Homo sapiens: one gene and its partners. The protein of the gene in region 6 purifies or fractionates together with the protein of the main gene of each other region. This does not show direct contact. Each region holds a gene or a part of one and is shown on either strand. Other genes may lie near its edges. The genes, in order: CACNA1H, PCNX1, GTF2A1, NR4A3, PRDM13, KDM5B and BMP2K.

What was found.
Region 1: the proteins of KDM5B (region 6) and CACNA1H purify together in Homo sapiens (affinity purification with mass spectrometry, with the first as the bait; one study listed by BioGRID). This does not show direct contact.
Region 2: the proteins of KDM5B (region 6) and PCNX1 purify together in Homo sapiens (affinity purification with mass spectrometry, with the first as the bait; one study listed by BioGRID). This does not show direct contact.
Region 3: the proteins of KDM5B (region 6) and GTF2A1 purify together in Homo sapiens (affinity purification with mass spectrometry, with the first as the bait; one study listed by BioGRID). This does not show direct contact.
Region 4: the proteins of KDM5B (region 6) and NR4A3 purify together in Homo sapiens (affinity purification with mass spectrometry, with the first as the bait; one study listed by BioGRID). This does not show direct contact.
Region 5: the proteins of KDM5B (region 6) and PRDM13 purify together in Homo sapiens (affinity purification with mass spectrometry, with the first as the bait; one study listed by BioGRID). This does not show direct contact.
Region 7: the proteins of KDM5B (region 6) and BMP2K purify together in Homo sapiens (affinity purification with mass spectrometry, with the first as the bait; one study listed by BioGRID). This does not show direct contact.

What each region holds. Positions count from the first base shown.
Region 1 is NC_000016.10:1,159,606-1,163,105, reverse strand, and holds part of CACNA1H (voltage-dependent T-type calcium channel subunit alpha-1H), read right to left. Parts: intron 1-3,500.
Region 2 is NC_000014.9:71,099,459-71,102,958, reverse strand, and holds part of PCNX1 (pecanex-like protein 1), read right to left. Parts: intron 970-3,500; coding exon 739-969; intron 1-738.
Region 3 is NC_000014.9:81,189,960-81,193,459, forward strand, and holds part of GTF2A1 (transcription initiation factor IIA subunit 1), read right to left. Parts: intron 2,881-3,500; coding exon 2,560-2,880; intron 1-2,559. UniProt on the Homo sapiens protein: TFIIA is a component of the transcription machinery of RNA polymerase II and plays an important role in transcriptional activation. TFIIA in a complex with TBP mediates transcriptional activity.
Region 4 is NC_000009.12:99,824,885-99,828,384, reverse strand, and holds part of NR4A3 (nuclear receptor subfamily 4 group A member 3), read right to left. Parts: intron 2,727-3,500; 5' UTR 2,553-2,726; intron 1,656-2,552; exon of another isoform or gene 1,615-1,655; coding exon of another isoform or gene 1,584-1,614; intron 1,038-1,583; exon of another isoform or gene 919-1,037; intron 345-918; coding exon of another isoform or gene 343-344; coding exon 1-342. UniProt on the Homo sapiens protein: Transcriptional activator that binds to regulatory elements in promoter regions in a cell- and response element (target)-specific manner.
Region 5 is NC_000006.12:99,605,520-99,609,632, forward strand, and holds the start of PRDM13 (PR domain zinc finger protein 13), read left to right. Parts: upstream 1-1,313; 5' UTR 1,314-1,515; coding exon 1,516-1,659; intron 1,660-3,221; coding exon 3,222-3,353; intron 3,354-3,667; coding exon 3,668-3,788; intron 3,789-4,113. UniProt on the Homo sapiens protein: May be involved in transcriptional regulation. Is required for the differentiation of KISS1-expressing neurons in the arcuate (Arc) nucleus of the hypothalamus.
Region 6 is NC_000001.11:202,801,922-202,805,421, forward strand, and holds part of KDM5B (lysine-specific demethylase 5B), read right to left. Parts: intron 1-3,500. UniProt on the Homo sapiens protein: Histone demethylase that demethylates 'Lys-4' of histone H3, thereby playing a central role in histone code. Does not demethylate histone H3 'Lys-9' or H3 'Lys-27'. Demethylates trimethylated, dimethylated and monomethylated H3 'Lys-4'.
Region 7 is NC_000004.12:78,905,350-78,908,849, reverse strand, and holds part of BMP2K (BMP-2-inducible protein kinase), read right to left. Parts: intron 2,743-3,500; exon of another isoform or gene 2,689-2,742; intron 1-2,688. UniProt on the Homo sapiens protein: May be involved in osteoblast differentiation.

The DNA of each region.
Region 1 (3,500 bases), on a different chromosome or scaffold from region 6:
CTCACCTGCCCAGAACAGAGAGGCTGGGTGACGAGTGAGGGACACACAGCAAACACAGAGTCAGACGAGCCCAAGGTCCAGGCAGGCAGAGCACCGGCCACTGTGCCCCCACAGCCTTTGAGGCTGGAGCCAAGGATAGCTCCGCGTGGCCGCAGGGCCAGGCACCCGTGGAGTGGCCGTGAGAAGAGGCGTTCCAGGGACCTGGGGCCACTGACCTCTGCTCGCCCACCTGACCACAGCTGTTTCCAGCCACCTGGGACTATCCCACCCCCTGCTCATACTCCCTCGGCCTTCACGCCACAGCCCTGGCGGATGGTCCCCCAGCTTGGACACTGTCCTCCCAGCGTCAGTGGGGCCCGGGTCTCATCCATCTTGTTCCCTGCTCACCAGAGCCAAGTGCGGCCCCCAGACCCCTTCACAGGGTCCCAAGACGCTCGGCTCCTCCTAGGATGGACCCCCCCCCCCCACTCCAGGTGTCCGCAGGAGCTGGCCGTGCGGGGCAGCTTCTAACCAGGGCACAGAGACACAACTGCAGCACCAGCCCCCGTGCCAACCGAGGCTCCGAATGACCCACTTCACGGCTAAGCGTCCTCTCTCTCTGGGGGCTGCTCCTCATCGGAGGAGCCTGACAACAGTGGGCGACCAATCGCGATTCATCCTGAAAGGGGCTGACTCCTGTTACTGCGTCAAGCACCTCCTGCTCATGGGCCATTTTTCTCCCTCCGGGGGGGCCCACAGGTGAGGTGGGGAAAGGGCCAAGCAGGTGCTGGGGGCCTCCCCCAGGCACCTGCACCCCTGCTCGCAGCTGTGAGGGCAGGTGGGGGCACCCTGGCAGGAGGCAGCTGTAACAGAGTGCCACAGGTAGGGGCCTCAGACAGCAATGGCCTCTTGGGGCTCTGGAGGCCAGAGGCCCAGGGCGAGGGGTCATGGGGCTGACAGGATCCCATGTCCTGCATCACCCATGGGACTGAGTGGGGACGAGGAGTCCCCGCCACACACCCAGAGGCCAGGAGGGCAGCAGGCCCATTTCACAGATGAGAAAACCAACGCCCAGGAGGTGACACGACCCCGACAGGGTCCGGAGCAGGGACCTCAGTGCCCACCTCTGCCAGTCCACTTCAGACTTCACGGGACACAGCCTGACCCACCGTGATGGCTCTGCTGCCTTCTAGAAAGATCTGCCCCGAGCCTTGCCTGCAGCTCCATTAACGCGTCCGACCAGGCCCACCCCACGGACCCACCCCACAGGCAGGCTGCGGCAAGGGGACCCAGGAGGTCCGGGTGCTGCTCACAGATGGGGACAGGGCTGGCGTGGGGCCTGGCCAGCGGTCTGTCCCCCATCAGCCGCCGCACTGGCCACCCACCGACTGGACGGGGCTGACAGCCTATCTCCCGGGACCGCATCTGGCCCCTTCTCTCACCCGCCTGCTGGGAGCCTCACTCCATCAGTGACCGAGATGACAGACCAAAGTGGTGTGACAGGGAAACTGAGGCCCACGTGGAGGCACTGCCCAGGCTGGCAGGGGTCGCTAGCCCCCCTCCTGTGGCCATGGAGACCCCAGAATCCCAGGAGGCTCCACCCAGTTGAGGCTGAGTCTTTAACATCTGGGGCTACTAAAGACCACCTTGCCCAAAAAAAGGCCTCAAGGTATCCCCACCTCAGTCCTCAGGCCAGTGAGGGGCCCAGAGACAACCACCTCCGGCCAGGGGGCTCTGCCCAGGTGCAGACAGCTGGGGAGGGGAGAAGGGGTGAGAACACAGGGCGGCCTGGCGGTCAACAGAGGCGAGGGCTTGCCCCCACCTCTGCCACCGGCTCAGTTGACAGCGTTCATTAATGCCAACATCCCGTGTCACCTAACGGTCCATCCACAAAGGAACAGCTTCGCTCCCATCAGTCGCCAACGGCAGAAGCACCCACACCACCAGCAGCCCAGGGTCAGACGAGTCCAGCAGGGCCAGCAGACGCTGAGGTCTCGCTCAAGGCCTTTTCTGCAGGAGCCAGTTCTGCAGACATCAAAGCAGGGCTGGGGGTGCAACTGTGTCAGGTCTACACACCTTGGGGGTCAGAGGAGCCTCTTCACCCCGAGGCAGCGTGGGGGCCTCCGGATCCTCTCCCTGCCAGCCCTGCTCTCAACTTGGGCAAAGAGCCCAGGGCTGCACCGAGGCTGGGGGGGGGCCGCACTGGGCTGATGCCTCGGTCCTCGCCGGCCGCGCACCCGAGGATGGGGTGCTCTGGCGTCCCGGGTTGACGCTGCACGGGGCCTCCAAACGCAGGCGGCGGCCACACCCACCCAAGGATCTCTCTGCCCACAGCTCCCGCTCCCGGCAAGCGACCGGGCGGCAGCAAGAGGACAAAGGAGGCCTCGTGGAGCACATTCATCAACCGTCCGGCTCATCAAACCCGGGGGCTCTCACGGCCCCGCCAACGGCCCGCTTCTCCCGTCAGCCCGGGCCCACCTCCGCCCCGCGAGGAGTGTGCACGGAGGCCAGGGACACCAGCGGCCACGTGGCGGCACACCCCCTGCACCACGGCAAGCTGCTACTCCGTCCCCATCTGTCATCCTCGGCGGGCACAGTGCTCTGGGGACGGTGCCCAGACCTGCTGCCAGCTCTCCTGAGCCGGGCAGGGGCTGAGAGCCAGCAGAGCTCCTTCCCCGAGCCCCGCCCCCACCATCTCTGACCGAGGCGGCCGTCCATCACTGCTCAGGGCGCGACCGGCTGACTTCACCCCTTGTATCTGCCCAGGGTGAGTGGTCGCTCCTTAATCTCCACCCTGGAAATTCAACCTGGGCCCGCGTGACTTAGAGTTGTTCCAAGTTACGCCAACATGAGCCACTGAGGAGAGACTCCTCTTCCGTGCCAGGGAGGGGAATGCCCACTGACGAGGACAGGCAGGGACAGTCCCCGCCCTTCCCACAGCGGGCTCGGCACAGGCGGCTGGACGGACGGCCTGGCCGACATCTGCATAAACAAAGGTAACGCGTTCCTCGCCTGACCTTGACTGTGCGACCGTGGCTTGGACTCAGCCAGCAGAGCTGCTGTGGATCCATCCCCGGAGTGTTTGACAGGCTGGCCCCTCCCCCGCATTCCTCCTGTCCTGACCCCGGAACGGGACGTCTCTTCTGCAGCTCCAGGAGCCCGGCCTGGTGGGGCCGCATCGCCCTCGGCTCTCAGCCCTTGGGGGAGGTGAGGGGAGTATGCAGAACCACCCCTGAGCGTTCCACCAGGCCAGGGAGGGTGCCCGCAGCTGGCCCCGGCAAGAATGAAGTTCGGGTGCTTGGAGCGTGTTGCCCACGAGTCCAAGAGCTTCCTTCAGGGGCTGGCAGCAGCCACGCCCTCTGGGCCTGAGTGTGTGGGACACCAGTGCTCCCCACTCCCAGCCTCTGTCCCTGTGCGGCCCTCACCTGCCCTTCCAGCCCCGTCTCTCTCATCGACTTCCTGCTAAGCCCGGCCCCCAGGCCTCCCCTCCCTAAGGAGCAGTTGTGACGCCAGTTGGAGGC
Region 2 (3,500 bases), on a different chromosome or scaffold from region 6:
ACTGAGATGTTTAAAAAAACAAACAAGCAAAAGTTAGAATGAACTATTTAACTTCTGATCTTTATTAAGTACATGGTATGCTATCATTTTGCAACCTAAGAATCATATTATATTAGCAATATGGTGCTGACTTTTTAAAAAGAGATGCTGCCCAAATTGCATATATAAAATATATAAGACCTGCCATTTAATGGATAAAAGACTGTCAAAACTGAAATAACCAAAAATTTTAAGGCTTTATGGCACATGAGAAACTTTCAGAGGACAGAATAAAGTACTAAAAAAAAATAAGTAAAATTAAGTGCTCATAAACAAGAAAGACAAATGTAATATGGTCATCACATTTTTTTTCTGTGAAAAAACTTTCAATTACTTTTTAAAAGTTTACATCAAGGCTGGGCGTGGTGGCTCACACCTGTAATTGTACAGCTTTGGGAGGCTGAGTCAGGTGGATCACTTGAGGCCAGGAGTGTGAGACCAGCCTGGGCAACATTGCAAAACCCTGTCTCTACAAAAAACACAAAAATTAGCCGGACATGGTGGTGCATGTCTGTAGTCCCAGCTTCTCGATAGGCTGAGGTGGAGCAAAGGGAGGTCGAGAGCCTGCAGTAAGCCCATGATCATGCCACTGTATTCCAGCCTGGGCCCAAAGTGAGACTCTGTCTCAAAAAAAAAAAATTTTAGATCAAGTTATTCAACTTCTATGTTTTGGACCAAATAAATACCTCAAACACTTACTTTAATGACCCTGAAGCTCAGGTAGCGTCTGTTGAGCATGATGATTTTATATTCATTGGTGCCATCATCCATGACATGCCGCAGAGCAAGCAAGGAGGGAGAGTTGGCAAGTACTGCACTCCGCCATGCAGGGTCCCCTTCATGGGCTATTACGAGGTTCTTCTCATGAGATACTATGGCTTCATAGAGCACAGTAGGGTCATCATATTCATCTGGAGAAGTAAAATGATCCTAAATACAAAAATAATATATAAATTTTTAAAGGAAAATAAAAGAACTGATAACTTCTACAGTTACTAAGTGAAAGTTCTTAAAAACTGGTTTATTATGAATATTTCAACACATGTTAATATTATTAGAGATAAATTATAGATTCTCAGTCATAACTGGGTTAGGAAGTAGCTCATTACTGCTATACTATTTTTGTAAATTCCTCAATCCAACCCTCTCCTCTAAGTTCTAGATGAATAAACATCATTTCTGGTTTTTATGTGTTTTGTTTTTCTCTTTCAAGTTGGTTTTTCATATCTTTATTCATGTTTTTTTTTCTGTTGAAGGATTACGTCACTATTAGGTAAGGAAGGCTAAAACTACATAAAAGGTCTCTATATTGTGTTTCTTCTTAACTAGATACTTTTCACATAAAGTCGTATCTCTAAAATGGGTTCTAATATATCACTTTATCCTGCCTCTCACCTAGTTAAGATACAGCTCAAAGCTAGCAGCTCTGAGCACAGATTTGGGGTCCTAGTCCTAGAGAAGTTGGTAAAGTTTTCTCTGAAAAGTATCTTGGTCTTAATAACTACTTATTCATTTGATAGTTATTCAGTATCTACCATGTACAAGACTGTCTGGCAGGCAGCATGGATAAAACAAAGAAGATATGAAATGTATCTCCCTATTACAAACCTACACATTAACAGGGACAGGACATATACTGAAATAACTGTAACACAAATCTGCAGTTTTGAAATGGTATATTAAAGAAATGTAAATATGATAGGCTGCTTTCATATTTATAGTTGGGAGGCTGACAAATTTCTGTATCCCAGTAAAGTAATCCATTTGCACTCAAGTCAACTGACCAGAATTTGTGCTATGTGAAAGGAGAAGAGGGAGAGTAAGAAGGAATATCCTTAAGGATAGAGCCTGTTAGCTGGGGGGTTGAGATATGTGAGATAATACTGTATACATAAATAATGCTTCATAATGTAAAATGTTCTACATTATTTCACTGGAATTTTACAACAATCTTGTCAAGTAGGTTGAGTTGATAATACCTGCATTTTCCATGTTTAAAAACTGAAGCTTAAAGAGGCTTAATTGCTTCCTAAGTGTAGGAAGTTAGTAAATGCCAGGCAGAAGATTTTGGACCTCGAAGACTGGTATTCTGGAATAACTCAGTCAGACAAAATAAAGAAAAAAGAATAAAAGAAATGAAGAGAGTCTTTGAGGAATACGGGATTATGTAAAGCAACCAAACTTACCAATTAATGACATTCCTGAGAGAGGAGGTGGAAAAGTAAACAACCTGAAAAACATATTTGAGGGAATAACTCAAGAGCATTTCCCTAATCTTGCTAGAAAGGTGGACATCCAGATACAAGAAATCTGAGAACAGCTGTGAGATACTATACAAAATGAACATCACCAGGCATACAGTCACCAGGGTGTCCAAGGTCAACACTAAAGAAAAATTCTTAAAGGCAGCTAGAGAAAAAGGTCAGATCACATAAAAAGGGAACCCCATCAGGTTAATAGTAAACTTCTCAGAAGAAACTTTATAAGCCAGAAGGGATTGGGGCCTGTTTTCAGCATTCTTAAAGAAATTCCAACCAAGAATTTCATATCCTGCCAAACTAAGCTTCATAAGTGAAAGAGAAATAAAATCTTTTCCAGACAAGCAAGTGCTAAGGAAGTTTGTTACCACTTAACCAGCCTTATAAGAGATCCTTAAGGGAGTTCTAAACATGGAAACAAAAAAATAATACCTGCTACCACAAAAACACACTTAAGAACACAGCCCACAGACCCTATAAAGCAACCATACAGTAGAACTACGAAGCAACCATTCATGATACATGATAGGACCTTCATGATAGGACCAACAACTTCCTAATAGGACCAAAACCTCACATATCAATATTAACCTTGAATGTAAATGGTCTAAACACCCCACTTAAAAGACACAGAGTTGCAAGGTAGATTAAAAAAAAAAGATCCATTTGTCTGGTCTCTTCAAGAGACCCATCTCACATGCAATGACACTCATAGGTGCAAAGTAAAGGGCTGGAGAAAGATTTATCATGCAAACAAACAAAAAGAGCAGGGGTCACTATTCCTATATCAGATAAAATAGACTTTAACAACAGTAAAAATGGAAACAAAAGGTCATTACCTAATGATAGAAAGTTCAATTTAACAAGAAGACATAACTATCCTACATATATATGCACCCAACATTGGAGCACCCAGATTCATAAAACAAGGTTTTACTGGCCTACAAAAAGACTTAGCCACATAGTAATAGTACGGGACTTCAATACCCCACTGACAGTGTTAGATCACTGAGGCAAAAAACTAACAAAGAAACTCTGGACTTAAGTTTGACACTTGGCCAATTGGATCTAATAGACACCTACAGAATACTCCACCCATCAACCACAGACTATACATTATTTTTATCTGCACACAGAACATACCCTATGATCGACCACATGCCTGGCCATAAAGCAAGTTTCAATAAATTAAAAAATCAAAAT
Region 3 (3,500 bases), on a different chromosome or scaffold from region 6:
TTGAAAACATTAATAAAATCAACACATCCCTGGTAAGACTGAACAGGGAAAAAAAAAGATGGCACAATAATTATATTAGGAATGAAGATGACAAAGGATTCTGGCATCAAAAAGACAATATCATGATTAACTTCATGTTAATCAACTTGAAAATTTAGATAAATATATAGAGAGTCCTAGAAAAATATAACTTATCAAAACGGTCTCAAACAGAAACAAAATACTTGAAGGGCATGAGATTACTAGACCCAGGTATCTGTAGTGTCATGTTTTAACAAATATCAACAGAAGAATTAAATACAATCTTTGAAAAAAAAAAAAGAGTTCAAAATACAGGAAACATGTCCCCAAATTCATTTAACAAAGCTACCATAACTGAAAACCTTGTAAGAAGAGTATGAGAACAGAAAATCACACAGTATCTATCAATCATAAATATCTACAAAAAAGTCCTCAACAAAATGAATTCAGCAATTTATAAAAAGAGAAATATAAAATGATCAAGTTGTGCTATCCCAGGAGTACAAGATTGGTTTACAAATAGAAAATCAATTAATGAAATCCATTATAAATAACATTACGTGAGAAATTATACAAATCATTGCAGAAAAGGTGTTTAATTAAATGCAACATTCACTTACAGTTTAAAAAACAAAGCAATGCAAAGAAGGGAATTTACTTAACCTGATGAAGATATCCATTAAAAAAAAAGAAAACCCACAACAAACATTAAACTTAACAGTGAAGCATGGAAAAGATTACTTTTCAGTTTAAGAAGAAGAGAAGAGTGCCTGCTATCACCACTTCTAATCAATACTGTTCCCGAAGGCTTAGCCAATGAGCCACAAAAAACTGCCGTTCTTCATATAAGATGTGAAAGTCTACACAGAAGATACAAAAGAATCTACAGATACATTATGAGGACTAACAAAAGACATTAGGACGGTGGCTGGTTCAAGGATGAATATTAAAAGCGCTACATATTTCCATCCTACCAATAAACTGGAAAAGGTAATAAAAACATGTTACTTCAAGAAGCACTGAAACTATGAAGAATTTAGGGGGAGGAAACGGGCAAGAGACCTCAATAAGCACTTCTATACAAAACACAAATATCAAATAAATATACAAAAAGAGGCTAAAACTCCTAAGTGAGGAAATGCAAACTAAAACCAAAATGAAATAATACTATTTTCTACCTACCAGACCAGCAAAAATCAGGAAGCCTGACACTATCAGGTATTGATAAGGGGGTATGGACATCTGCACAATTATGTATTGAATGGCAGAAGTGATTTGGCATTTTATTATAAAGTTGCAGATGTGCATGACTTAGGAGCCAGAAGTTCAATGTTCGGTATAAAATTTAGAGAACCTCTTGCATTTGTGTCCCCAGAAGACATACACTACAATATTTTATAACTGTTTGTAACAGTAAACAACAAGAAACAATCCTTATGTCCACTGGATTAGAAAAATTGACAAATAAAATTATGGTATATTCAGCAATGAAAATAATTATAGCTATATGCAACAACTTGGATAAACCTCAGGAATATCATTTTAAGGGGAAAAAACCAACTTGCAGAAGAATACGTAATTACTTCATTTACGTTGTAAACATGCAAAACTAAACAATATGCTATTTAGGAATATAAATATATATGGTAAAATATAAAAGCAATTAATAATCAACACAAATGTATGAGCAAAGGTACTTTGATGGCCTAGGAATGATGGGATTAGGGAGAGGCATCTAAGGCACTTTAAATAATGGAATTTTATTTTAACTAGATGGTGGGCACCAGGATGATTTTTATCTTGAAACATTTCTATTCATTTGTGTCTATTCAATATTCAATAATAAACTATGTTTTCTTCAGAAAAAAAATTACTTAGATAATTTAGAAGAACTTTGTACTAAGAAACAAAAAGACTGCATTTTAGGCTAACGAAGGCAATTAACAGTGAAAATTGTGGTGGGACAAATAGTTTTTGGAGCCTAGTAACTAAGCTGAAATAGTGAGGAAAACAAAGGCATATTTATATGCTTCTAGAAGAACACAGACATTAAGGGTACATAGGTTTTTAAGGAAGTGGTATAGAACATGGACCAAAAGGTTTTAAATATTTAATAAATTTGTGACATTTGGTTCTTGAGTTTGCTCTCTCCCCAAATGTTGCCACGCTTTTTAAATTACTGAAGCAAAAGATTAACCACATCTATTTATCTACCAATGTCTTATGTTTAAGCCACATTATAAATGCGTAAGCCAGAGTTAGAATTACCTGTACTCTTTACTACACATATTAATACAATTTAATTTGTTATACATTTTTTATTACCAGCTATATGAAAGTTATATTTTATGAAGATAAATATAGCCAGAATATAAAAACCTTACTAAAGTTAAAACAATCTAACTTTATCTTTAAAATCTTATGTTGTACAGCACCTAACAGTCTCTGAAAAAAACAGGATATAATTTATCAGTGTTGTACCAACTAAAAAAGGAAATAATCAAGTAGATTATTTTAAGTATGTTACTAGAAACTTACTTCTTCCACCTGCCCATCTTCAGCTCCATCTTTCTCTTTGTCTTCCTCCTCATCATCATCATAGTCTTCTTCTTCATCTTCATCTTCTTCAGATGATGTATCCCCAGTTCCATCAACTTGTAAGACCAATGGAGCTTGTGTTTGAGCAGGCTGGGCCTGCGGTTGCTGCTGGCCAGTTGCAGTTATCTGTGCTTGGGCTGGTGTAGGTGCTGCCACTGTCGTAGGTATAACTTGAGTCTTATTTCCTGTAAATAAGATTTGCTGAGGCTGGATGATGACACCTGTCTGTGGTGAAATCCCTCCAGGAAGAGGAGCCAGCACCTAAAGCAAAAGAAAACCACATAACAGTAACTAGTTAAGAGGATCAAGTATGGTACACAGAAATAGAAACAAATGCTTAAGATTCACCAGAATGGCCATATTTCATACACAGTTAAAAACTACCAAAGTACAAAAGCAATTAGTTTAACTAGTGTAGTGACCCATTAAATTTCTATTTTATCAAATTTCTAGAAAATAAGGATTTTCTAAAGATAACTGCTTCATTTATTGAGCACATACTATGTATATGCCAGCTACCAGGACAAAAGTTATACACTGCCTTCACATGAAGAACACTGGACTGAGAATCTGAAAACCTGGGTCTACCTTTTTTTTTTTTTTTTATAGATGGAGTCTCGTTCTGTCACCCAGGCTGGAGTGCAATGGTGTGATCTCGGCTCACTGCAACCCCTGCCTCCTGGGTTCAAGCAATTCTCCCACCTCAGCCTCCTGAGTAGCTGGGACTACAGGTGCGCGCCACCATGCCCGGCTAATTTTGTTATTTTTAGCAGAGACGGGGTTTTGCCATGTTGGTCAGGCTGGTCTCGAACTCACGACCTCATGATCCGCCCGCCTCCCAAAGTGCTGGGATTACAGGCGTGAGCCACAACGCCTGGCCA
Region 4 (3,500 bases), on a different chromosome or scaffold from region 6:
CTGCTGATGCTGCTGCTGGTGATGGTGGTGGTGGTGGTGGTGGTGGTGGTGATGGTGATGGTAGCTGGGCGCCCGCCCCTCCTCCACTTTGATCAAGGGCCGCTGCATTTGGTACACGCAGGAAGGCTTGAGTTCGTAGTTGCTCGAGTAGCCCTCCACGAAGGTACTGATGCTGGGCAGGGACGTGGTGGCTGTAGCCGTGATCTCAGTGCTGCCAAGGTCCATGGTCAGCTTGGTGTAGTCGGGGTTCATGATCTCCGTGGTGTATTCCGAGCTGTATGTCTGCGCCGCATAACTGGAACCTGGAGGGGAAGGGCTATATTGGGCTTGGACGCAGGGCATATCTGCAGGGACAGAGAAAAGGGTCTCTCAGAAGCAAGTTAACACTTGTTTTCTAGCCAACAGGCAGCATTGGGTTCACTGTTCTCTAATCTGGGAAACAGAGAGGAAGTGTCATCCTCTCCTCCTTCTGGTAGCATAGACACAAAGCCCCACACTTATTTTCTTCATCCCTAGTAAGGAAGCTGAATTCCTGACAAAGGGGTGCCAAAACCTGGCCTCCTGTGGACTCCTGTACCTATCTTTCCTCCCTTGCCCTGTCCTCCACTAGATTTGGGAAACTTGAAGTCTTTCCTCATAAGCTCAGAGATGTTTTTAAAAAGAGGCTTTGAATCCTATAAACTAATTGGAGTGGGCTCCTCAGCTATAACCTAGGGGGACAAAGAGAAAGCCAGTGGTTTATTTGGGAGGAAAGAGGCCATTGGTCCCCCAAGGCATACACATTGATTTGTAAACCTGAGTTAGGCAAGAAAAACTACCCTGTGAGAGATTTAGTGGCCAAGGGAGAGAGTTGACATTCTAACATTTTATGAGTGCCAATTGAGGTTGCCCACACACGTTGTGGTTGCTTTCTCCCACCTCATCCCCACTCTTCCAATAGGGCTAGCAGCCTGCACAAACTGGACCCCTGTTGATAACTTCAGTCAGCTAGGTGGGGACATAGGCCCAGGAAATTGACTCGGGAGAGTTTGTACCATCTGCAAAGAAAAAGATCAGCAGCTGCAACAAAACACCCACCCATATATATATATATACACACACACACACACACACACACACACACACATATATATATCCCAATTCTAACTAATAAAACATATCAGTGACTGTTTTGTGATAACAGTTTATAACTATCATAATAGGCAAGTTAGTATAGGTATTTCCTTATGACACTAGAATTAGTACCCATGAAAAAAAGCAGTTTCTCAATAGACTTGATTTCTCTGCCAGTTTGACTATGTTGCCCCCAAAGTGGCTGGTATCCAGGGTGCTTACTATTGTTCAGAGAGGCTGAACTGAGTGAGAAGGCGCTGAGAATTATTGGATGTAGTGGATGATTTATCTAATTATTTTTCTTTCTTTATGGCTAAATATAAATGGTAAAAAACGGCGGTTTTTGGTGGTTGGTTTTTCTGAGCCAAAGGAAAACCAGGTGCTTAACGCCTCTTTGGAGTCTATGGTGTAAAAGGTGTGACTAATAGAGAAGTGAATACTTCACATTTCCTTTGACATCTTTCTCTTACCCACATTTCCAAATCTGATTGAGTCATGCATGTATGGGATGAAATCTTGACTTGAAAAAAGGTGATGAGGGCCTGTTGGAAGAAGCAGTGATGAGGAGAGGCCAGTTCAAGCCTTTCTTTAACAAGCAGGGCCTTAAAAATACACTCACTAGTTTGAAGTCCAGTTACTTATCTTGCTGTCCAGTTGTTGGGATGAAATGAAAGGCTAATCATTTAAAAGAAAGAACACTGCCTGATCTTTGATCTATTCTCCTTCTCCCTTCAGCACCTCTAGGATTTCTCCATTACTCTTTTCTGTCATTCTTTCCGGCCAATCCCTTTTTACTGCTCTTATTTGTGTCTTTCTGAGGTTTCTAGCTAGAAGATGAGCTTGCTGGGATTGTATTCTATTTATCTGCATTATCTATGGTGCCCACACAGGCTTGGCACCTAGTATTCCTTTAACAAATTTGTAAAGAGGTGGTACAAACCAAAAGTGCAATCTGTTCTTTTGCCAAACTCAAATTTACTCTTTGGTTTTCATCTCAAATGCTTTTCTCCTTCCCTCTGAGCTTCAATCATCCAAACTTCTGCACCCAAATGATTTGGGTTTTATATAAATGAAAATGCTCAGTATTGCTCTAAGTGATTCCATAACTCTTACATGTGCACACTGGCTATAAAAGAAGAGCAAAAATGAAATTAAAAATGTATAAAATACCCTAATCTATTGGTGTATTTGTATTTCTCTTAGGAAAATTAATTTTGAGCAATGCAAGCTTAATTTAATTTGGCTGCTCCACTCAGTAGCAACAGGGTGTGGTATACAGAGGAGCTTCCTGTGAGGAAGCCACCTGTGTTGTGAAATTCGCGGCCAGCAGTCACTGTCCTGGCACTGGGCAGGTCGACCACGCTGCCCGCCGAGTGTGTGGTTCCCCCACCCACTTCCCTCAGCCAGGGAGGAGAAAAGGGTCTTGCCTTCGGACCTACCTGGAGGGTATCTTGCGCGCTGAATGGTGGGGCTGGGGGTCTCTCCAGCGGAGGCTGAGAGTGTAGGAGGAGCGGACGTCCGGCGAGGCGAAGCGCCGGCAGTGCTGCCCGGCACCGCTAAGGGTCCAGGCTCAGGGCCCGGGCTTGCCGGGCTGCCCTCTTCCGCAGTGGGCTCTACAGGCAAGGTGAAAGAGGACATAGGTCACAGTGAGACCAGGATGGGTCACTACGGCCCGGGCTGGGCGCATTGGGGACTGGGGGAATTGGTTGGCAACCTCTAGAAATGTTACATTAATTACAAAGAATTATCGTAAAATTAAGGGTGATTAATGGTACAGGAGTCCCCCTGGGCAAGAAGCATCACACGGCCTCGGGGAAGCCGAGGAAAGGTTGTTGGAACCCACTGCGCCTACCACCGTTTTGTGGCACCAAAACCGAGGCTAAAAAAAAAACGCGCAGCCTGTTATTGCCCAGAAATTGATCTCTCTGCCCCCACAATTGATTCCGAGCTTACGAAGTCAGGAAAACCAAAGAAAGCAGAACACTTGAGGAACGAGCTCCGCCCGAATACGGGGGGTCAGTGAGTGTTCACCAGCGGAAAAAAGCCATTTTCCAGCTCCGCCCGCCCCCACCCCTCAAATACAAATTTTACACGTTGCATAGGAAATGCACAAGGTCCGGAACGAATGCATGAATGCCCCGAGGAATTAAGAAAGTCTGCGCTTTTCATTCTAAATGCTAATGGAGCTTCGCTTCTATTAGCCGCGAGTTTCGAGGGCCAGGGGTCAAGCAAACAAAAGGGCACAGCGATGAGAAGGCTGGCGCTGGAAGCAAGGGGACGAAGCGGACGGCGTTAGCGGCTGATGGGACGAGCGGAGGCAGGTCCCCTGCACCCAGAGGGCGGTGTCTTCGAGGGTGGGCGGCTTGGAGGCTCCTGGCCACCCAGCG
Region 5 (4,113 bases), on a different chromosome or scaffold from region 6:
CTGAGGGCCCTCTGCCCTTTTGTGCAGTGGTTGGGCCTCTGGCGCTAGGCTTGGAAATACACCACCACTCAGGCCTCTCTTGGAAGAACTGCATCGGGCTCCGGTGCTGGCTGCATAGGATTTGGGGAGCTGTGCTCAGAACTAGCAGCACGCGGCAGGTGCCGGCAGAAATCACAAATATCTGATGAACTTGATTACTTGGCTACTATTTATGAAAATAAATGTTCTCACGCCAATTGGAGGCTTCCCTAAAAGAAAACGGGTAGCTCTCCGGTTTAACTCTGAAGTACAACGTCTTGTTAGTTCACAAAGTAGGTGTAAGAAAGAGTTGTCCCAAACGCCCACCTCGCCCCTCTTCTCTACAACCTTTAACAGATTGCGGTGATTTTCGTTTTTGTTTACTGTTTTTTTTTTAATAGAAAAGTCCAGGTTGCTGGTTTTAGGGAAGTTAGTCCAAGGACATCTTCTAGGGGACGTGATCAATAACCCACTGGTAGAACTTCTTCCTCTTCAACCCTGGGCTGCGGACCGGGGCGCAGGATCCCCATTCGAAACTGTTGGTTCTGGGGCTGTTTCCCATTCTCCAGAGAAAGTGCAGGCCCGGGGTGTGCCCGAGAAAAGTGATGAGCAGTTGACCTCCCCTTCTCAACTTGGTCTGGAGGCTTCATCATATTTTCGGACGAAATGGGACAGAAGTGAGAATTAAAGCGGTTCTGAATAGACGACTGGCCTGAACCCAATCCCCTGAAATGGTAATATGGTTGTTATTTAAAAAGTGTAGGTATTTTCTGGTGTTTTCCCATCAAGTACCTGCCTAATTTCTGTATGGCACACGCCAGAAATCAATAGTAGTTAACAAGTCCTCCAAACAGTCTCCATCTCTTTGTTTAATCTCCTTTACAATAAAGCCAAGGGGAGAGAATTAAAAATCTTTGAAGTAGATCAAGGCTCAAAGGAATCAGCCAAGTAGACTTAAAGTAGTCACTTATTTCCCAAAACTGGTTTGTCGGGGAACAATAAAAGGAAGTAAAATTTATGGAGAAATTATACAGTGGATTTGTCACTTAAAATATCGTAACTGTCTGGAGGACAATACCCCATGCTGAGGATTAATGGTCCCGCCGGACCTTTGATTCACCAGTGCCTTTTCTTCGCCCTTGACAAATTGGATTTTTAGGAATGGGAAGGTCGCCTGGACCATTGTGTGCTAGCCATTCAGCGGCCTCGATTATGCAGGGGGCTGAGGGAACCACTCCATGTGACCCTCTCGGGTGGGACTCTGCAGCTGCTTCGCAGCGCAACTCTCTCACCAAACTCCGCGCCCTTGCGCTAGCGGTGCCAAAAGGCTCCCGCCCCGATTGAAAAGGCGCAGTGCATGCCCGCCCGCGTCACTCCGCGGGCGGAGGACGCACGTCGGGGCGCGGCTCTCTGGCTAGCGCGCAGCTCCAGCTCTGTCACTCGCGCCCTTCCAAGGACCTGGAGCACCCGAGCGCCTGCCTGGTGGCGGCGGCAACAATGCACGGAGCCGCCAGAGCGCCAGCCACCAGCGTGAGTGCCGACTGCTGCATCCCGGCCGGCTTGCGCCTCGGACCGGTGCCTGGTACCTTCAAGCTGGGCAAGTACCTGTCAGACCGCAGGGAGCCCGGGCCTAAGAAAAAGGTATTGACCATTCAGACCTCTGCCCACTGCCATTCGCCTCTCAGTGCCCTGACCCGGGAAAGGGGTACGAGAGAAAGTGGAGGAAGGGAGTGATTGAGTCGTTACCTGCTAATTCTGCCGGGTGGAAGGGGACTCCTATTATTCTGAGCAAGTAGCCTCTTTAACTGTGAGAGCTGGACGGGGTCGGGCTGAGAGGAGAGGATGTGGCCGAGAGGCGACAGCCCTGGGTGGGGTGCACTGAGCGCTGTAGGTGCCGGGACCATTCGCAGCTTGTGTTTTCCCCTGCGCTCTCGGGTCTCCTCAGTCAGAAGCCAGAAGCCCACCCCCGCACGCTGTCCGCAGCTCTCTCTGCAAAAGCACCCTCTTTCTGGGGGCTCAGGGCATCGAGACCCTTTCTTCCCTTCTGCCCTTCAATATGTTAATTTGAGGCCTAATTTCGCCTTAAAGTAATTTTTTTTCCTGAAAAAAAAAATCTTTGGGAGGCTCTCAGTTCCTAGAACCTCCTCAGATATTTTTTTTTCCCTTGCCGATGTCGGCTTGTGGGTATGCGGCATATGGAGAGAGGATGAGCAAGGTACTGGCTCTGACGCGGGCTCCAAGGGCGAGGCGCGCCCATTCGCGCGGGGCACAGGGTCAGAGCGTCTGCAGCGGGGCTCTGAGAGTCCAGAGGCCCAACCGGGAGGCGCCAGGGCCAAACCACTAGCTTTGACTCCCACACTCCACACACCGTCGCGACCCCTGACCAGAGAGACTTATAGCACTCGCCCGCTTTGGGGGCGTCCCAGGAGCCAAAGGTCGGCAAACAGCGACCGGGAAATGAAGGCAGAAGTCTGGGGTAGAAGAAAGGACTTTGGCTTCCTTGGCTTTAGCTTGCCTTGCTTGGAGCTTTCTAGTAAAAAGCTCCGGTGTCCAGCCAGCGGGACTTGCACCTCGCTCCTCCTGCAATCACGCCCCCCACTACAGTCTAAAGCGGGGTTTGGTGCCCACCGCGCATTCCTCTTTAAACGCGTTTTAATTGCTTTTAAATGGCCTGCCAGCTGCGGGCAAGCTTTTCCCCGCTTGGGCTTTGTTCCGAGACTTTAGCTGCAGGGCTCACAGGCAACTAGGTGCGATGCACACAGAATACAGGAGGCATGAGATAATTTTTTTGTTTGTTTGTCGGGGGTACGCTCTGGGCCCTGGGACTGACCTAGAAATGTCTCTACCGTGGTGTTACGGCTGCTCTCAGAACTGCAAATGGGAGAGCTGGGGTAGGGGACAACTTGGTACAAGATGTGCCTAAGCACTCAGGGAGGATGCTCTCAACACCCCTCTCCCCTCCCCGTGTCGTCAAGGTGGGGCGCAGGGAAGTGGGAGTACTGTTAGCATAGGTAGACTTTCCTCTTTCTCCCTCCCCGAAGCAAGGTCCTAAGGAATTCTCCTCCTCCCAGTAGCCCATAGTGGTCTGGCCAAACCAAAAACAACCACTTTCCTGTGTTGGGTTGGGGTGGAGGATAAACTTTCTGTTTGGGTTGTGGGCCTGGCCAAGGTGCGGGGGAGAACGACCACTGCTTGTGTTGCAGGTGCGCATGGTGAGAGGGGAGCTGGTGGACGAGTCGGGGGGCTCCCCTCTGGAGTGGATAGGGTTAATCCGGGCAGCCAGAAACTCCCAGGAACAGACTCTGGAAGCTATTGCAGACTTACCCGGAGGACAGGTACTGCGGGCTTCTCTCCACACCCCCCCACTCCCCACCGCCAATTCAGTCTACCTAACCGTCCCTGCGGTGGCCAAAAATATTAAGAGCAAAGTACTTTAGCTAGACGTCTCATTTAAACGTCTCGACAACCCTTTAAGGTAGTTACTATTGTTTTTCCGTTTGAAGGATGACGGAAGTGAGGTTCAGAGAGCTCCAGTAGCTTCTCCAGGGTCACACAGCATCAGAATCCGGATTTGAACCTTTCTTCTCAGTTGCTTTTTGACCGATTACCCAGGAAATGACATTGAACTGTTCTATTCCTTGCGTCCCAGATCTTCTACCGAGCATTGCGAGACGTCCAGCCAGGGGAGGAGCTGACAGTGTGGTATTCTAACTCCTTGGCTCAGTGGTTCGACATCCCCACCACAGCGACTCCGACTCACGACGAGAAAGGTACCCATTCCAAAAGCGTGGATGGGCAAAAGTCCAGCCCTCCTCCTCCTGTCTTGAAGCGAGTCCCTAGACATAGCTCGATCTATGTAAAATGGAATTCACATTCCCTGTATTTCAAGGCAAAGAGGAGAGAGGTCGCCACTACCTCCTTAAAATCAACCATAAACGATAACAGTGATAGTAGCAATCTGGCTCACAATGGCAGGGGAAAAAGTAGGCTCTATGAACTTAATGGGGCCATCCTTTTTCTGTTGCATATTCAAACAGACCATTATTTACTCAATTAAAATAAAAAAAATTAGGCGCGGTAGCTCACACCTGTAAT
Region 6 (3,500 bases):
GACCCAAACTTAAATTTGAGAATGTGTAGCCCTCCAGTTCCCAACCTTCATTCCATCTTTTTTTTTTTTTGAGGCTGCCAATGATCTGTACTATAACAGGTATATTAGAAAATACCAAATTCTCTTAGAGAAAAAAAAATTGCACAACAATCTCAACACTGAGAGGACTGTCCAAGGATGAAAGCAAGGTACTCCTAGGTTAGTAGTTTTTCAAACCTATAGATGGCATTTGGAAAGAAGTACACGCATAGGCTTCAAAAAACCCTGAACACCAGAAACCTAATTAGCACTTTCATTTTAGGGGCACGGGCTTTCCCTTATCCTTTTCTACAGCCAACCTTAATGGGGTCCAATTAAGGCAACAATGAAAGGTTACAAAAGTCTACAAAAAGGTCCCATTACAGCATTTAAACAGGGTTCATTTTTTTTAATCAAATAGTTTACACTGTTTTTTTGTTGTTGTTGTTTGTTGTTGTTGTTGTTGTGTTTGTTTTCTTTTTTGAGCCTGTTGCCCAGGCTAGAGTGCAATGGAGTGATCTCGGCTCACTGCAACCTCTGCCTCCTGGGTTCAAGCAATTCTCCTGCCTCAGCCTCCCGAGTAGCTGGGATTGCAGGCGCCTGCCACCATGCCCAGCTAATTTTTATATTTTTAGTAGAGACAGGGTTTCGCTATGTTGGCCAGGCTGGTCTTGAACTCCTGACCTCAAGCGATCCGCCCACTTAGGCCTCCCAAAAGTGCTGGGATTACAGGCACGAGCCACTATGCCCAGCCCTGTATTTTTTTACCCAAGAGAAAATTCCCCCACTGGCAGATTTCTACCCACTTATAAATGTAAACCAGTAAACACATTTTTCACTAATCTATCAACCTGAAATACTCTAATACTCTAAGTCTAGGCCAACAGGTCATAAAGAAAATTACCCTAGAAACAGAGAAAGAATAAAATTAAGGTTTAATAATTTTCTCTTAATTTTTCTTATCAGTGTCTCAACAAAATAATTCAGGCCAGGTGCACTGGCCCATGCCTGTAATCCCAGCACTTTGGGAGGCCAAAGCGGGAGAACTGCTTGAAGCCAGGAGTTCAAGACCAGCCTGGGCAACATACTGAGAAACCGCATCCCTACAATTTATTAGAGGCTGAGGAGGGAGGAGCACTTGAGCCCAAGAAGTGGAAGCTGCAGGGAGCCTTGATTGCAACACTGCATGCCAGCCTGGATGACAGAGTGAGATTAAAAAAAAAAGGAAATTTCAGGCCCTGGCTTTTAATAGAGAATGTTTATTAATGTTTTTCAAAGGTAATTCTCTACTCATTTCGCTCTTTTAAAAGTTTAGATTGCATGTTTAAAACCATACCCTATAACCATAGGAAGGGAAGGAAATTTTTCCAGTGGGGGTGGGGACTCAAATCTTTAGCTGACTCATATTTGCAATATCATTCACATTACATTCTTAAAGTCTACACGTTTTGTTTATTAGTTCACTAAGAATTACAACTGGGTAGATATGTTTGTGGCTACTAATGTGCCCAATTTACCACTGGCAAAGTCAAATTTAGCTAAACACCCATTCAATAACTACAACAAATGAAGTTTGTTTTAGCTTTAAGGTAGACATTTGTGGCCTAGGTGCGGTGGCTCACGTCTGTAATCCCAGCACTTTGGGAGGCCGAGGTGGGTGGATCACCTGAGGTCAGGAGTTCAAGACCAGCCTAACCAACATGGTGAAACCTCGTCTCTACTAAAAATACAAAGTTAGCCGGGCGTGGCGGTGCATGCCCACCCAGCTACTCAGGAGGCTGAGGCAGGAGAATCGCTTGAACCCGGGAGGCGGATGTTGCAGTGAGCAACATGACGTTGCGCCATGGCACTCCAGCCTGGGCAACAACAGCAAAACTCCATCTCAAAAAAAAAAGGTAGACATTTGTGGCCTAGAACTGTAGGACTTAATCCAACCTCCTACCAGGTTTTTCTCCTGGGCATTATAGTCCTAAATTTGTCTTAAAAGGTAGTTAGGGGTCGGGGGAGGGGGGAGGGAAAGCATTAGGAGATATACCTAATGTAAATGATGAGTTAATGGGTGCAGCACACCAACATGGCACATGTGTACATATGTAACAAACCTGCACGTTGTACACATGTACCCTAGAACTTAAAGTATAATTTAAAAAAAGGAAAAAAAAAGTAGTTACAAGTGAGTTCAGGGTTTCTTTTGAGGGAGATGAAAATGTTCTACAATTGATTGTGGTGATGGTTGTACAACTCTGAAAATATCAAAAACCACTGAATTACACATCATAAATTCGTGAATTGTATGGTATATTTCAATAAAAGGGTTTTTTTTTTAAGTAGTTATAAGTTCTTCCTTTGCTCAAGGATGTTTCTACTGATAAGCCTCTTCTCTAAACGTTAAAGGCTTAAAGTGGCCAAAGATACAAGTAGGGAAAGATTTCATGACACCAAAGAAATAGGGAAAACAGAGAGAGGGTTAGGCCTAAGTCGATCAAACCCCAAATTAGGGAGAATGATACGCTGGAAAGGGAGTAAATGAGCTCCATATCATTAACACTTCTACCATACAAAGAAGTGTATAAGTTCCTCCCTCTTCTCTAGGAGTGGAACCAACAGGCTCACTCAAAAATGGTGACTGTATTAAAACATTTAAGGGCAGTTTTACACTTGGCTATAAAGATGAAGGAATCAAACTAGTAACCACAAGAAGTTAAAGCTGAAAAATTTTTGTCTCTTGTGGCCTCTGGGGTTTGATTTAAACCTTCTCCGGACACAAAGAAGAAATCTGTGGAATCTAGGCCCGGCACGGTGGCTCACGCCTGTAATCCCAGCACTTTGGGAGGCCGAGGCGCATGGATCACCTGAGGTCGGGAGGCAGAGGTTGTGATGAGCCACTGCACTCCAGGCCTGGGCAACAAGAGCAAAATTCCGTCTCAAAAAAAAAAAAAAAAAGAAATTTGTGGAATCTATCTATGGCCAAATGTGAGACATTTGAAAGCAAGAAAATAAGTTACTAAAGCCATAAATATATTCCTATCAAAATTTGGGAGACAAAAAAGTATTTACTGAGCAGCCAACTATTTTTCTGCCTAATAGTTACACCCTTAAAATTACTCATCTCCAAATACCACAAAGTGATATGGAAAAATATCATTTGTCCTTAAACAGACATCTAAGTACAGTATCATGGAGGAAATTAAAAATTTGCATTTTAAAGGTGACAAAACCAGAAGCCAGATGAATTGTAAATTTAAGAAGGTTTTGGTCCAGAAAACAAGCCTGGTTATCCTACATAGTTGATATAATTTGAAACAAAGGTTTGTATTAAACTTCAAACTCAGATTTGAAGTATAGTCTTCTTGACTTAATCACGTTTTCTCACATTTATCTTACTATATTTTCAAATTTCTGAGAACCCCTAAGCTGCCATATACAAAATAATGTAAGTACTCTAAGTTTTCAGAAGCCAAGCAGTTTGGGAGTCTCACTGA
Region 7 (3,500 bases), on a different chromosome or scaffold from region 6:
TGATTATTATGCACTGTATACCTGTATCAACATATCTCATGTACCCCATAAATGTATATACCTACTATGTACCCACACACAAATTTTAATGAGCATAATTTTTTAAAAAATGAGTAAGTTGGAAAGTGAAGAGGAGTACTAAAAATTTTGTTTGGAGACATTAAGCTTGACATATGTGTGAGACAACATTTAAGTGTACAGCAGTTAGGTATCTGTGATTTGAAACCAATGGTTAGTTTTTGGCTGAAGAAAATAGATTTGGGAGTTATCACCATGCAGTTGGTATGCAGAGAGAGCCACAAGACTAAAGGGCATACCTCGGAAGAAAACATAGAAGAAAAGAAGATCCAAAACTGAGCCCTCAGTATAAAACATTCAGAAGTCAGCAGAGGAAGATGAACATACAAAACAAACTACAAAGTAACAGCCAGAGAGGAGGAAGAAAACAGCTGAGTGCAATGTCACAGAAATGGAGAGAGAAGAATGTTTGAGGGAGGTAACAGACAACTGAGCTGGATGGTGCAAAGAGGTCCAGTAAACTAAGGACATAAAATGGCCACTGGATCTGGTCATCTTGTATAGTTTGTTGGCAATGTTGACATGAGTAGTGGTGCTAAAGAATGTGTGGGAGACAAGTATGTGAAGAATACCACCAGGTTATACTTAATTGCAAATATAATCTTCTGTCAGTTCCTTAAAACCAGCCAAGAGCTACATGCTGTATTTGTTATCCTTCCAGATTAAAAGCAAATCAAATGCAGATTCTCAAGTTTGACTTCTTCCCTACACAGCGTATTTATGATATTAAAAACAAAGTTAATTTTAGTGAATTTATTTTTATGAATTTTTATTCAAAAGCAAAATATGGGAAGAAGGGAAAAATGAAAATAAAATATGTACGGTTCCAGAAGATTTCCCATCATCCCTGACTGTGAAACGTTTAACGTATTACTCCTCGAGCTGCATACCCACCCACAGCCACAACATTCACACCTCACGCCTGCTCACGGACACCTCCAAGTAACATTCCAATGTTGCCCAAAGTGTATTCTGCAGAGGCTATTTCCCTAACAAGAACCAAGACAAACAGTTCTGTGGTCTCAAGCAAACAAGTCTATGAAATGGTGCACTCTGCATTCTGCCTCCACTCCTACTCACCTGGAGTATGCTCATTAAAGGTGCTAATGAGTCCTACACAAAAGAATCTAATTTTATGAACCCTAGGATTTCCCAAATTGTCTTCACTACCCTTTTATTTACATGTAATGCCTGTTAACCTTTAAAACCAACTATGCAAAAGTACTTTGGGGAAATGCTGCTATACAACTTATCTTGAAATTTTCCATTTCTAGTTGTGTTCCTGAAGGTCTTCTGGAACATTTAACGTAGGACAGATAATTCATCTTGGAGAGTGTCACTTGGAAGTGAATTTAAATTCGCCTTCTTTTTAAAATTATTACATTGTACTCCCTAGTCTTCTTAAAATTTACTGTTTTCATTATTCAACTGGCTACCATTACTTTTCAGAAGACATCTGTCACTTTATACTTCTCATTCTGTTGGCCCTTTGTCCATTTATCAAAGTTGTATTAATAGAAATACACATTTATAATTGTCAGTGTGGGTATAAATCTGTGGGTTTTTAACTTACTATTTTTAATGCATCTTTTCAGGTATCAACAGTCTATTATTTATTCTGATAGAAATATGATAAAATATTCCATATATAACTGTTCACTATTTAGCAATAGAATATTTAGGTTGTTTCTAGTTTTTCGGCATTTTAGATACAACCATGATTCATGCACTTTTTCCTTCAAGGAGTAAAAAGGAAACCCTCCTTTTTTAGTATCAATTTCACTTTATTTATATACTATGATTCCCTCCTCATGGGTAATTAACACAGCTACTAAAGCTAACCCAATAATAATCCTGACAAGGTCACCACTATTCCACTTTCTTTATACACAAAATGGGATAACACATTTTATATCATAGAGCTATTGTGAAGAAAGGACTTAGAACGGTGCCTGAACACATAATAAGCACTCTACCATCATCATGTCCTGGGAATGGCCAAATTCAATTATTTTATCCATCATACCCAATAAGCTTCTAGTAACTTTTCTGGGCCCAGTGGTTGCAGGTGAATATAAATGAGGGAGAAGTGTAGGGAGAAGCAAGTCTATGGCTAATTCAAGAGGAGCTGAGATCCACTTCAGAACTGACCAGAAGTAAGTAGACCAACAAATGTATATCCACACAGCATAAGGGTACATTTTAGATCCTGGAAATTCTATTTTTGATTTTTAGACAGCTATATTTGAGAACACAGTATAAGAAATGGAAACACACTTTCAAAAAGAGCAAGAAAAGACACAATCATCTATACCACCTTTGTGCTTTCAGGTTACATCTGCAAATAGTACGGGCAACTGGGGAAATTTTCTGTTGGTGTAGATAGACTGGTTTTACTTATTTTGCCCCCCTACATAAAACTAAAATAACAATCAAAAATATTTATCCAAATTCCTGTTTTCTCCCATATTCTTGCAACCCACACTGACATTGTTTAAATATTTCACTCTACACTTTTACTGCTGTTATAAACTTATAAAAAGTAAAGAGCAGTAATGAGGCTCTCTGAAAGCATACTAAGACAAACTATTAATCCTTTTATCTCTCCAGTACCTCCTGCTGAGGAAAAGTTAGGTTCCAGGCTGCAAGTTACCACAATCCAAGGTAAGTTTCTGCAGTAGCAGTGATCTACTTAATCATCTATTCATCATGAAACTACAGAAGAGCTGGGAAAGAAAGGTGAATTACACAAAAATAAAAAGTATTTCAGTATATTCTAAGGCTTTCAGTCCTATTCCATAGACATAAAAGACTGTCAGAATAAGTATTTTAAGTTATAAAGTTGGTTATAACTATACAATGCACAGCACTTTAGAATGTGACCTCTAGCTAAGAATGCCATAAACCTTCATACTCCATTTCTTTGCCTAAACATATTCCTATAATTTAAAAAAAAAAATTTCAGATCTTCCCACTATTTGTGTCTGGGGCCAGATTCCCACTAGTTGTTAGATTAAATAATACACATTTGATTTACTATGAAATTTAATCAGGATTATTTCACTGCTAAAGTTAATTTCCCAAAAGTATAAGCCTAAATATGTTGCTTTATAATTCAATATACCCTAAATCCTAATAATCCCCATATTTACTGAGATCTGTATTATTAACATAAAAATAGCTGTTCTTCAAGTAGGTGGGAGATGGGGGTATAATATTTAGAATAAGCACTAACAACATGTATTTACAGCATTAAAAACTGTGTAGATGGTGCACAGAATCATAACTCATTTACATTATTTTAGTATACTGTGAAATTTCATATATTCACCCACTGTTTTTATTTTTGGCTCTAAGTAATGTATTTCTTCTTTTTCTTTAACTAAATATGGTAGAATGATATTTTGATGGTTTCTAGTCAA